2 separate regions of the Homo sapiens genome follow, and region 1 is linked to region 2. The links come from fine-mapping of genetic effects on gene expression. A gene starts in region 2. The other region holds a variant in brackets. All regions are shown on one strand. Distances are between the middles of the regions. Region 1 overlaps ANKRD13C (ankyrin repeat domain 13C). Region 2 holds the start of ANKRD13C (ankyrin repeat domain 13C).

Region 1 (5,532 bases), 44 kb after region 2:
CTCAAGCGATCCTCCTACCTCGGCCTCTCAAAGTGCTGGGATTACAGAAGTGAGCCACCACATCTGGCCAATAGTTTATATTTTTAAGGTTGAAAATGGCACTTTTAGTTTTAAAAATTTTGTTTTACAAACAGCATTTAAAATTTAATAATAGAATGCAAGGAGTTTTCAGAAAAGAAAATTAATTATGGGATTATGGGACTACTGAATTTAAGGACGTTTGAAATCTAGTACTTAGATCTCTGAATGTGGAGAATTTAGTTAACATTTTTTGTTTATGTATATTTTGTTGTCTTTCCGTTATTTTGCCTCTTGCATACTTTATAGCCACTTTCTTTACATACTGTTTGGTTGAACATTGATTCCAGTGACTTACGAAAGATCCTAATTTTGCCCTAGATTTTTTTGCAGTCATTTATTGACTTACCTTAACAAGGTTTTTCTCCTCATTTTAAACATGAGTCCACTAGAGAGAAAACTTTCATATCCAAATATGAAATTTGATTCTAGTGACCTTTATTTTACTAACTAAACAACTAAATTTTGTTGTTTTTAAAGATTTAAAAAAATGTAATCTCTAAAGGTTTAGACATAATGAGCTTATGTGAGTTTTTGTTGAAGCATCTAAATTAATTTTTTTTTTTTTTTGGAGACAGAGTCTCACTCACTCTGTCGCCCAGGCACGTATGCATATTATACCAAATGAGGAACTTTGGGCAAAGAATTCAAAGTCAGTAGAATAGGAATTTTGAACTAGCAAATCTGTTTCTTTTCAGTTCTACATTCTGTGGCTCTATAGTTTTCTCTATACATTTAAAAACAAATTCTAGACTGTGAAATGGAGATTACTTACAGTACTTAGCCCCATCCAGTGCTGCTACTGCTCTTCCCAGGCAATTTGTAGTGGGATTTCCAGAGCAAGGCTCTGTCTCAAAAAAAAAAAAAAACAGTAATAGAAATTTCACAGTTTTAGGCCTAGTCTATGGGAGGTCAATAAATGCAACTTAATTTAAAACATTACATTCTGATATTTGTTAACCTTGAGGAAGTTATGATATTCTCACAATACACTTGGGTTTGCAAATTCAGCTTCAACTCGTCAGTAAGAAAATAGATTATACAATATACCATATAGCAGTAAAATGCCTAGGAAGTTACCAGATTTAAACTTTAATTAACAATTATACTTGTTATTTCTTCTAATTCTCTTACATCTTCTGATTTCTTCTGAAAAAGTAAACGCAGCCATAAATCTGAAGTCCATTAGCACTTATTTCTCTCTACTGTATGAAAAAATAGTAGTTTTCTACTGTCTTGAGAAAGAATCTGGCCTCTTTTCAACAAGTAATAATTTTCTACAAATTATATTTTTGATAAACTGCCTTCTTTATTTGGAGCTTTTAGATACAAATCAGACTTCCTCTCCAGCTTATGTACATTACAGCTTGTGTAAATTTTAAACATTGATTTTATAACATCTGTATACATTTCTAAAAATTGTATTATGCTTTTTAGTTAGCTTTGACTAATACAAGTTATTTAATACTAAAATTATCCTCAGTTTACTAAGATTTTAATCTATTTTTAATAGAATATTCACTGTAAAAGTTTTGAACATTATAGAAAATTAATCAGGTATTTTTAAGTTTCCCTGTTACCACTTCCCAGAGGTGACTATTGTTAACATTTCGTATGACTACTTTCAAATGCTTTTCAGTGCTTACTAAAGTGTTTGTGTACATAGCTATGCACACACAACCCCTCAGAATTAGGTTTTTTTTCTCCCATGGAATCATACTGTTATATCATTATGCAAGTTGACATTTATTTATTTATTTATTGAGAGGGAGTCTCACTCTATCACCCAGGCTGGAATGCAGTCACGCGATCTCAGCTCACTGCAACCTCCACCTCCTGGGTTCAAGTGATCCTAACACCTCAGCCTCCCGAGTAGCTGGGACTACATGCATGTGCCTTATGTTTTTAGTAGAGACAAGTTTTCACTGTGTTGGCCAGGCTGGTCTCGAACTCCTGACCTCTGATGATCCACCCGCCTCGGCCTCCCAAAGTGTAGGGATTACAGGCGTGAGCTACTACACCCAGCCATCATTTTTATTCAACCCATAGTAGGCATCTTACCATATTTCAGGTGGAAATACTTCACTAATTTTAACAGCTACATAATACTTTATGGCATGGATGATTAAGGTTTTTCTAGTGTGTTTAATCCTTGTATAGAGAATTTTAAATTCTAAATTTAATCAGTTTTTTCTCACATTTTTATAACTCTAGCTCATCAGGCTAGTTTGTCTCTATTAATGATTATGCAGTCTTGTTACTCTAATAGTCCCATCTTGCTTTTATGCCTTATATATCATTCAGGAGTCCTGGTGTCCTAGAACACATAGAAAAACAGGTTTATAGTAGCCTTGTGTAGTAAAGGAGCTCCAAGTTAGATTGGCCTAAAACCTGAATACTGTCTTTTTTACCCCATTTTTTTCCCATGTGGGGAGACCCCAGTCCTGCTTTGTGATCCTAAACTGGGTTGTCCCTTGAGTATTTTGGCTTTTTAACTGATTCTCTTAGTAATCATTAGTGGTTTGAATTCTAAAATAATCAATGTATATTGCTGAACAAAATGTTATAAAATATTTTAAAAGTGATATTTTAATTATACTAAAATATAAATACATGCAATCACTTCTAAAATTGTGTATATATCTA[T/C]AGTTATAAACAATACATTATAAATGTTGCATAATTGAGTTCCTCAAGTAACCACTGAGACAGTTGTCCAAAGTATTTCTTCTTTGAGAATTTGACTTTGATGCAAAAAGTCAGCACATCTGTTTCATTGCTAATAAAGGATTATAGTGATTTAACATCACAACTATTAATACGTGATGATTAGATGTCATGTATAATTCTAAAACGAAACCCATTGGCTTATAGATAGCCTAGATCTTTTATTAGATTTTATGATCAAACTTTAATTAGAGTTTTGGCATATTTCTTTCCCTTGTCAAAACACATAATATTTTTTAAAAAGCAAGCGAAAAATAAGGGGAAGCCAAGAAATACTGAAATCAGGGTGAGTTTACTTTTGAGATAGTAGAGCACACTCTTTTTTATGCTCTTACTTATATTCAGACTTCGAAGAAAATAGCCACAGACTTAGTAACAAGTTTGAAGGTAACTGAAATATTCCAGCCTGGATTTTTAGGTATAGAAAAGCTTTGAATTGGAGTCAGAAATACCGACCCCTAAGTATTTGACATTGCAAATCACATATTTTATATGTTTTCTGAGCTTTATTCTTCATTTTTAAAATGAGGATAATACTAACTACCCCACCTGTTGCAAACTTTCTTTTGGTGTATATGAAATAAAATCATTTTTTTGAAGAAAGCCCTTTGTATACTATAAAGTATCAAATAATTTATAATATGATCACTACTTTAAATTTTGCATTATGCATATAGCACGTTTTAACTAAAAAACTAATTCTCTATTTTTATTTGTTGTCTACAGAATCAATCCATCCTGTATTTGAGACTGTTATTTGTATATTATTATTATTATTATTTTTTTTTTTTTTTTTTTGCGACGGAGTCTGGCTCTGTCGCCCAGGCTAGCGCGATCTCGGCTCACTGCAAGCTCCACCTCCTGGGTTCACGCCATTCTCCTGCCTCAGCCTTCCGAGTAGCTGGGACTACAGGCGCCCGCCACCACGCCCGGCTAATTTTTTGTATTTTCTTTTTTTTAGTACAGACGGGATTTCACCGTGTTAGCCAAGATGGTCTTGATCTTCTCACCTCGTGATCCACCCGCCTCGGCCTCCCAAAGTGCTGGGATTACAGGCTTGAGCCACCGCGCCCGGCCTATTATTTGTATATTATAGATAGAAAACATTAAGCTTAAAAACTCTTCTGAAAATTGGGGAGTAGGCTGGGTGCAGTGGCTCACGCCGTAATCCCAGCACTTTGGGAGGCCAAGGCGGGTGGATCACCTTAGGTCAGGAGTTTGAGACCAACCTGGCCAACATGGTGAAAACCCATCTCTGCTAAAAATACAAAAATTAGGTGGACATGGTAGGGGGGCGCCTGTAATCCCAGCTACTCAGGAGGCTGAGGCTGGAGAATCACTTGAACCTGGGAGGCGGAGAGGAGAATCACTTGAACCTGGGAGGCGGAGTTTGTAGTAAGCTGAGATTGCGGCACTGCATTCCAGCCTGGGTGACAGAGCGACACTCTGTCTAAAAAAAAAAAAAAGGAAAGAAAGAAAATTGGGGAGTAAGTGGTAGCCAAATGAAAATTTAAATTTAAAAACTCTCTTTTTATTTTCTGTTTAGTGAATTATGCTACTGTTGGAATACTGTGCTAAACTTATGCTGAGGTAACAGGAAATAGGTTGGTTGTTTAACTTACGTGGAGGAGAAAAAGAGTTATTTCAGACTTGGGAAAATGTAAATTGCTATGTTTTGGAATGCATTAAAATCTATCAGAAATGTTTTTTTATTTGTTTGGTTGTTTGTTTTGCTCAATAATTTAACTTCTTTAATTTTTTTTTTTTTTTTTTTTGAGACGGAGTCTCGCTCTGTCGCCCAGGCTGGAGCACAGTGGCGCAATCTCGGCTCACTGCAAGTTCCGCCTCCTGGGTTCACGCCATTCTCCTGCCTCAGCCTCCTGAGTAGCTGGGACTACAGGCGCCCGCCACCACACCTGGCTAATTTTTTCTATTTTTAGTAAAGACGGGGTTTCACCGTGTTAGCCAGGACCGTCTTCATCTCCTGACCTCGTGATCTGCCCGCCTCGGCCTCCCAAAGTGCTGGGATTACAGGCCTCTGAGCCACCGCGCCTTGCCCTTTTCTTTTTTTTTTCTTAGCTTTTGCTCTCAATCCTCAACTTGTTTTCTCTCTGCCTTACCATTTTCCTCCTTTCCTGATTTTTAATAAAAGTATTAGTGTATGATATTAAATTCTGTTTTTGTAGGGTGTTATAATTACTTCAAAAGATATAATGTTGGCTGGGTATGGTGGCTTGTGCCTGTAATTCTAGCACTTTGGGAGGCTGAGGTGGGAGGATCTCTTGAGGCTAGGAGTTCAAGACCAACCTGGCCAATATAGGGAGACCCCCGTCTTTAAAAAAATAAATAAGTAATGAGATATAATGAAGTTAAATTAACTTAAGTTGGAGTGCTATCTACTTTTAATCATCTTTGGTTCATGATACACCAAATACTTACTTCAGGATGGATCTCAATTAATGAGCATGAAAGAACTTTGATCATTTATAGAATTACACTATTATTGCTCTTCTCAATTTTTGTTTCAAAAAAGTTTTTTCTTTCTTTCTTTTTTTCTTTTTCAAAGAGATAGGGTTTTGCTGTGTCACCTGGGCTGGAGTGCAGTGGCATGATCATAGCCCACTTCAGCCTTCGACTCCTGGCCTCAGGTGATCCTCCTGCTTCAGTCTCCCAGGTAGCTAGGACTACAGGTACCTGCCACCACACCTGGCTAATTTTTCTATTTTTATT
Region 2 (5,000 bases):
TGCTAAGATTGAACTCATTTTTAAAAACCTCTTAAACCTTTTTCTGCCTCACTCTTACTAACTTGGTTCATGCTCTCATCATCTGATTTACTGCATACTTCTTTAAAGTTCTGTTCTTGATGCATACTTCTCTAAAGTATGAGTGACTGAATTTTCTTTTTTTTAATTTTTTTTTTTTTTTGAGACCAAGTTTTGCTCTTGTCACCCAGGCTGGAGTGCAATTACACGATCTTGGCTCACTGCAACCTCCACCTCCCAGGTTCAACCGATTCTCCTGCCTCAGCCTCCCGAGTAGTTGGGACTACAGGCACCCACCATCATGCCCGGCTAATTTTTGTATTTTTAGTAGAGACAGGGTTTCACCATGTTGCCCAGGCTGGTTTGAACTCCTGACCTCAAGTGATCCACCCGCCTCAGCCTTCCAAAGTGCTGGGATTACAGGCATGAGCCACTGCGTTCGGCCTGAGTCACTGAATTTTCTATAAAGGTGATTGCATTATGCTATTCCCTGTTTAAAGATCTCTAAAAAGACTATTCCTTTTTTTTTTTGGACAGAGTCTCACTCTGTCCCCAGGCTGGAGTGCAGGGGCACAATCTCAGCTCACTGCAGCCCCCGCCTCCTGGGTTCAAGCGATTCTTCTGCCTCAGCCTCTCGAGTAGCTGCGAGTACGGGCACAAGCCACCACGCCCAGCTAATTTTTGTATTTTTAGTAAAGACAGGGTTTCACCATATTGGCCAGGCTGGTCTCGAACTCCTGACCTCGTGATCTGCCCGCCTCAGCCTCCCAAAGTGCTGGAATTACAGGCATAAGCCACCGCGCCCGGCCAAGTGTAAACTTTTAAGATGACATACAAAGCCCTGCATGACCTGGCCCTTCCTCTCTCTCTAGCCTTACTGTCAGATTTGACTGTACCACATTCTAGCATTGAAGTATTGGGCAAGTTTTTTTTAACTGTCAAGTGAGGATACTAATGCTAATCAGGGGGAGATAACAGCATATAAAGTGCCAAGCATACTGCCTGGCTTAGCGTTAACAATAAATATTGGCTATTGTGGAAGAAGCAAACATTATTGCATGTATTTTTTCAGTCTCTACTGCTGTCTCAAGAGGATGCTTTGAACTGTTGATTGGGTAATGTTTTAACATAAACGGAACTCTCCACTCCACCGAAAAAGAAAGAAGAGGAAGAAACAGATTTATCTGAACAGACTGAGAAGAAAATTGGAGGTGAAAAGTTGAGTGACTGGGGAGGATTAAGAGAGGCCCATCGAGTTGTTTGTTTGCGGAGATGAGTTAGCAGTAGTATAAACTTTAAGAAAGAAGAGATCTGGCCGGGCGCAGTGGCTCATGCCTGTAATCCCAGCACTTTGGGAGGCTGAGGCTGGCGGATCACTGAGGTCAGGGGTTCAAGACCAGCCTGGCCAACACGGTGAAACCCCGTCTCTACTAAAAATACAACAATTAGCTTGGTGTGGTGGCGCAGGCCTATAATCCCAGCTACTCTGGAGGCTGAGGCAGGAGAATCGCTTGGACCTGGGAGGTGGAGGTCGCAGTGAGCCGAGATTGCACCACTGCACTCTAGCCTGGACTACAGAGACTCTGTCAAAAAAACAAAAAAACAAAAAAAAGAGAGAGAGATCTGAAGTATTTGCTCTCAGAACATAGGGGGACTTTGGAGAGTTAAATGGGTGAAGATCTTTAGGATGTTTTGCTAAGCCCCCTCCTTACGTCCTCAGTGGCCAGCTTTAGTTACTTTGTTAAAGTTTTATGGTTGGCAGATTTACGTTTCTTCAGAGTTTGACACTAGGTTGAGGTTGGCCATGAACTAATACAATTATATTTCAGTTACACGATTCTTTGCCCTCCTTGAGTGTCCCCACCCTCATATATGTTAACTCTGACATCTGCCCGAAATTCATTCATCTAATAAATATTTGAGTGGCCTCCCCTCTTTCCGATTGCTGGACAGCCCATCATTTTCCAAAGTCAGCACCTAAACTCTTCTATGACTTTCCTGACAACTCAACACTAAAATTCGTCCCTCCCTTTTTTGTGTGCAACCCACCTCCCCGCCTCCGCTTTTAATTGTTTGGCCTTCATTCCTCTTCTACAGTGCTCCCTGCAATCAGTACTGGTGCTGTACATATTTGCTAGCTTCGTACATACGGCACGAAGTAGATGCTCAGTAAATGTTGGTTGACTGAGTATCCTCTGCATCTCGGTGACATCACATCCTGCGTGCCGTGGCGTCATTCTGCATTCCTCTGCGGGAGGCTCAGATCCGGAGGGTTTAAGTGGTTGTTTATAACATGCACCGAACATATCCAACGGAGGCTGTGGTTTCCGACCGCCCACAAAAAGCGCGGTTGGCGGGAGTGCGGGTTCGGGGTCGGCTGGCAGCTGGGAGACTCCAGCTCTGGGCGGAAACACACTGCCTCGGAGGCGCCGGCGCCTAGTGATTCTGGGAATAGAAGGTGCGAGGGAGGGAGCGGGTGGCTCACTTATCGCGGTGTTTTCTCTCTCTTCACTCCTGGGGGAGCTCTCGCGAGAGGAGCAAGAGGAAGATGGCCGTGCCCTGTTTTTCGGTGTAAGGCAGCGACGGCGGCTGCGACGGCGAGACTGAGATCCTGGTGTCGTGGGCACCTGAGTTCTAGCTTCCCCCAGCGAGCGCGCGTCCCTTCGTGCCTAGGCGAGAGCCGGCTCTTCCCCGGGAGATGCGTTTGTCCCAGGCTCGGGGGCTCAGTGGGAGTTCATGCTGCGCTGGAGGCTCTTGGCCACCGCTCTAATCGCCTTGTGCCGCCGCAGCGCCAGCTCCGTCGCCAGCGGTGAGCCTCCCGATTCCCCCCCTTGCCCCTGGCGGCGGCGATGACCGGGGAGAAGATCCGCTCACTGCGGAGGGACCACAAGCCCAGCAAAGAAGAAGGGGACCTGCTGGAGCCCGGGGATGAGGAAGCGGCGGCTGCCCTCGGCGGTACCTTTACCAGAAGCAGGATTGGCAAGGGCGGCAAAGCTTGTCATAAGATCTTCAGTAACCATCACCACCGGCTACAGCTGAAGGCAGCTCCGGCCTCCTCCAATCCCCCCGGCGCCCCGGCTCTGCCGCTGCACAATTCCTCCGTGACTGCCAACTCCCAGTCCCCGGCCCTTCTGGCCGGCACCAACCCCGTTGCTGTCGTCGCGGATGGAGGCAGTTGCCCCGCACACTACCCGGTGCACGAGTGCGTCTTCAAGGGGGATGTGAGGAGACTCTCCTCTCTCATCCGCACGCACAATATCGGGCAGAAAGATAATCACGGTGAGGAGTGCTAGCCCCTCTCCACCTCTCTCCTTCCCCGAGCCTAGGGTGTGCCTCCCCAGGCTTCTGGAATCCTAGGCCCCCTCCAGCAGACTCTTCTTTTTGCCCATCATCCGGGCCGTTCGGTAAATCATGATCGACTCAGTAATAGCGTGCCAGTGGTCAAGGGGTTGGTTCTTGTGGGTGCAAAGGAATGTATCCTCCTTGCCCACTTCAAAGTTTGTCGTGAGAAGCTGTTTTGTTTGAGACAGGCCTTCGATTTGCTGATTCTGGACTGTCAGAAATTTTAGGTTGCCTCCCACCCAACATGGTTTTCTCCCTTTGTTTATGGAGCTATATATCTTTATTTCTCTCTCTTCCCCCTACCTTGGCATTTTAAATTTTGAACGCATAAATTGCCCTCCTCCCTTCATTGCTCACATACAGATCCCATCTTGACTGCAACTGGTTGTGATTTTGCCTGCCACCAGGTTGTTTCTTTTTTGTCTGCTTTCAGTAAACTTAGAATGTTAGATTTCTGAAAGCCACACAGTAGAAATTTGTTGGTATTTGATACGTAGAACAGTTAAAGTGACTTCTCAACAGCCGATTTTTGTTTGAGTAGAGATTTGATTTTTTGCTTGTTTTAAGTAGATAATTGCTAATAGTAATGTCTCATCTTGATGACTGTGACTAAAAATAGTATTATGATTTTTATGGTAATTTTATCTTAGTCAATATTGACCATTTCTTTTTGCCTTGTCAGCTGAATTTTTTGTTTAATTCTAAAAAATAATGTGACTGAGTTGACTTTTAAGCAACAGTAAATTTATTATTGAAGACTAATGTGAACACTGACATTTTAACATTTAATAGCCGTTTTAAACTGGGTAGTTGGCAAATATTGTTGATCGCTCTGCTATTAATATGAAAATTGTATACATTCAGTTAGAACACACTGAACCAACTTTGTGCTCAAAATGATATACGTATCAATGAAATATTTGCCTGTGAAATAAGCTCACTTAATTCCATTGGATCGTAGGCTTTTTAGGACAAAAATTCAGATAAAAAAAACGAGTAAGATTTCTCTTGGCTGTATAATTATCTAACAACTGCATTTGTTTTCAGAATTTACAATGTTGTAATTGTAATAAAATCACCACCTATCATTTATCATAAATCCCCAAAAAAGTATGTTAAAGTTGCAGCCAGTTTTTCTTTCCTACATTTAAATTACTTAATCATTTTACTATTATAGTACAAGGATAATGTTGTTTGTTGATGATGGTAATTCTATGCTAGCCCTTTGGAAAACAGTTGTTAGTGGGAGATGGGTTGTAGCTTCAGTTTATTAGTCTATTATGAGGAAGTTTTTCAAATTTGGTTTACATAGTAGCCATAGTTACATTACCTTGAAATATCCCTGAAACAGATAAAAGGTTTGAGAGTTAACTCCCTTTGAAAGAAGAGATGGATGAATATCACTGAAGCTATTGAATTACAGGATTGTTGGGCTTCCATGTCTTCTTCAACCCAACATTTAGGAGTACATTTGTTTAAGTTCAAATTCTGTTCAAAGTAATTAGAATCCTGTATACTCTTAAACTCTTGTCCTTAGCCCACTGAAATTAACTTTTTTTTTTTTTTTTTTTTTTTTGAGACGGAGTCTTGCTCTGTCGCCCAGGCTGGAGTGCAGTGGTGCAATCTCCGCTCACTGCAAG

The links. PIP is the estimated chance that this variant, and not a neighbour inherited with it, causes the effect.
Region 1: its variant is the best candidate, but not a certain one, in a credible set for the expression of ANKRD13C in whole blood (INTERVAL, PIP 0.59).

Annotation. Positions count from the first base shown.
Region 1 is chr1:70,307,784-70,313,315 of GRCh38, reverse strand. All of the region lies in intron 5 of ANKRD13C (ankyrin repeat domain 13C), which reads left to right. Among named protein-coding and RNA genes, the nearest start is that of ANKRD13C, 44 kb to the left of the region's middle. The variant T/C (reference allele first, on the strand shown) is at 2,725.
Region 2 is chr1:70,352,276-70,357,275 of GRCh38, reverse strand. It overlaps ANKRD13C (ankyrin repeat domain 13C), which reads left to right and starts at 2,554. Exons shown (of 13, transcript NM_030816.5): 1 at 2,554-3,297. The coding sequence starts at 2,868. It overlaps ANKRD13C-DT (ANKRD13C divergent transcript), which reads right to left and starts at 2,465. Exons shown (of 4, transcript NR_168352.1): 1 at 2,068-2,465. RefSeq lists enhancers at 2,175-2,234, 2,335-2,394, 2,445-2,634, 2,665-2,724, 1,852-2,769 and 3 more.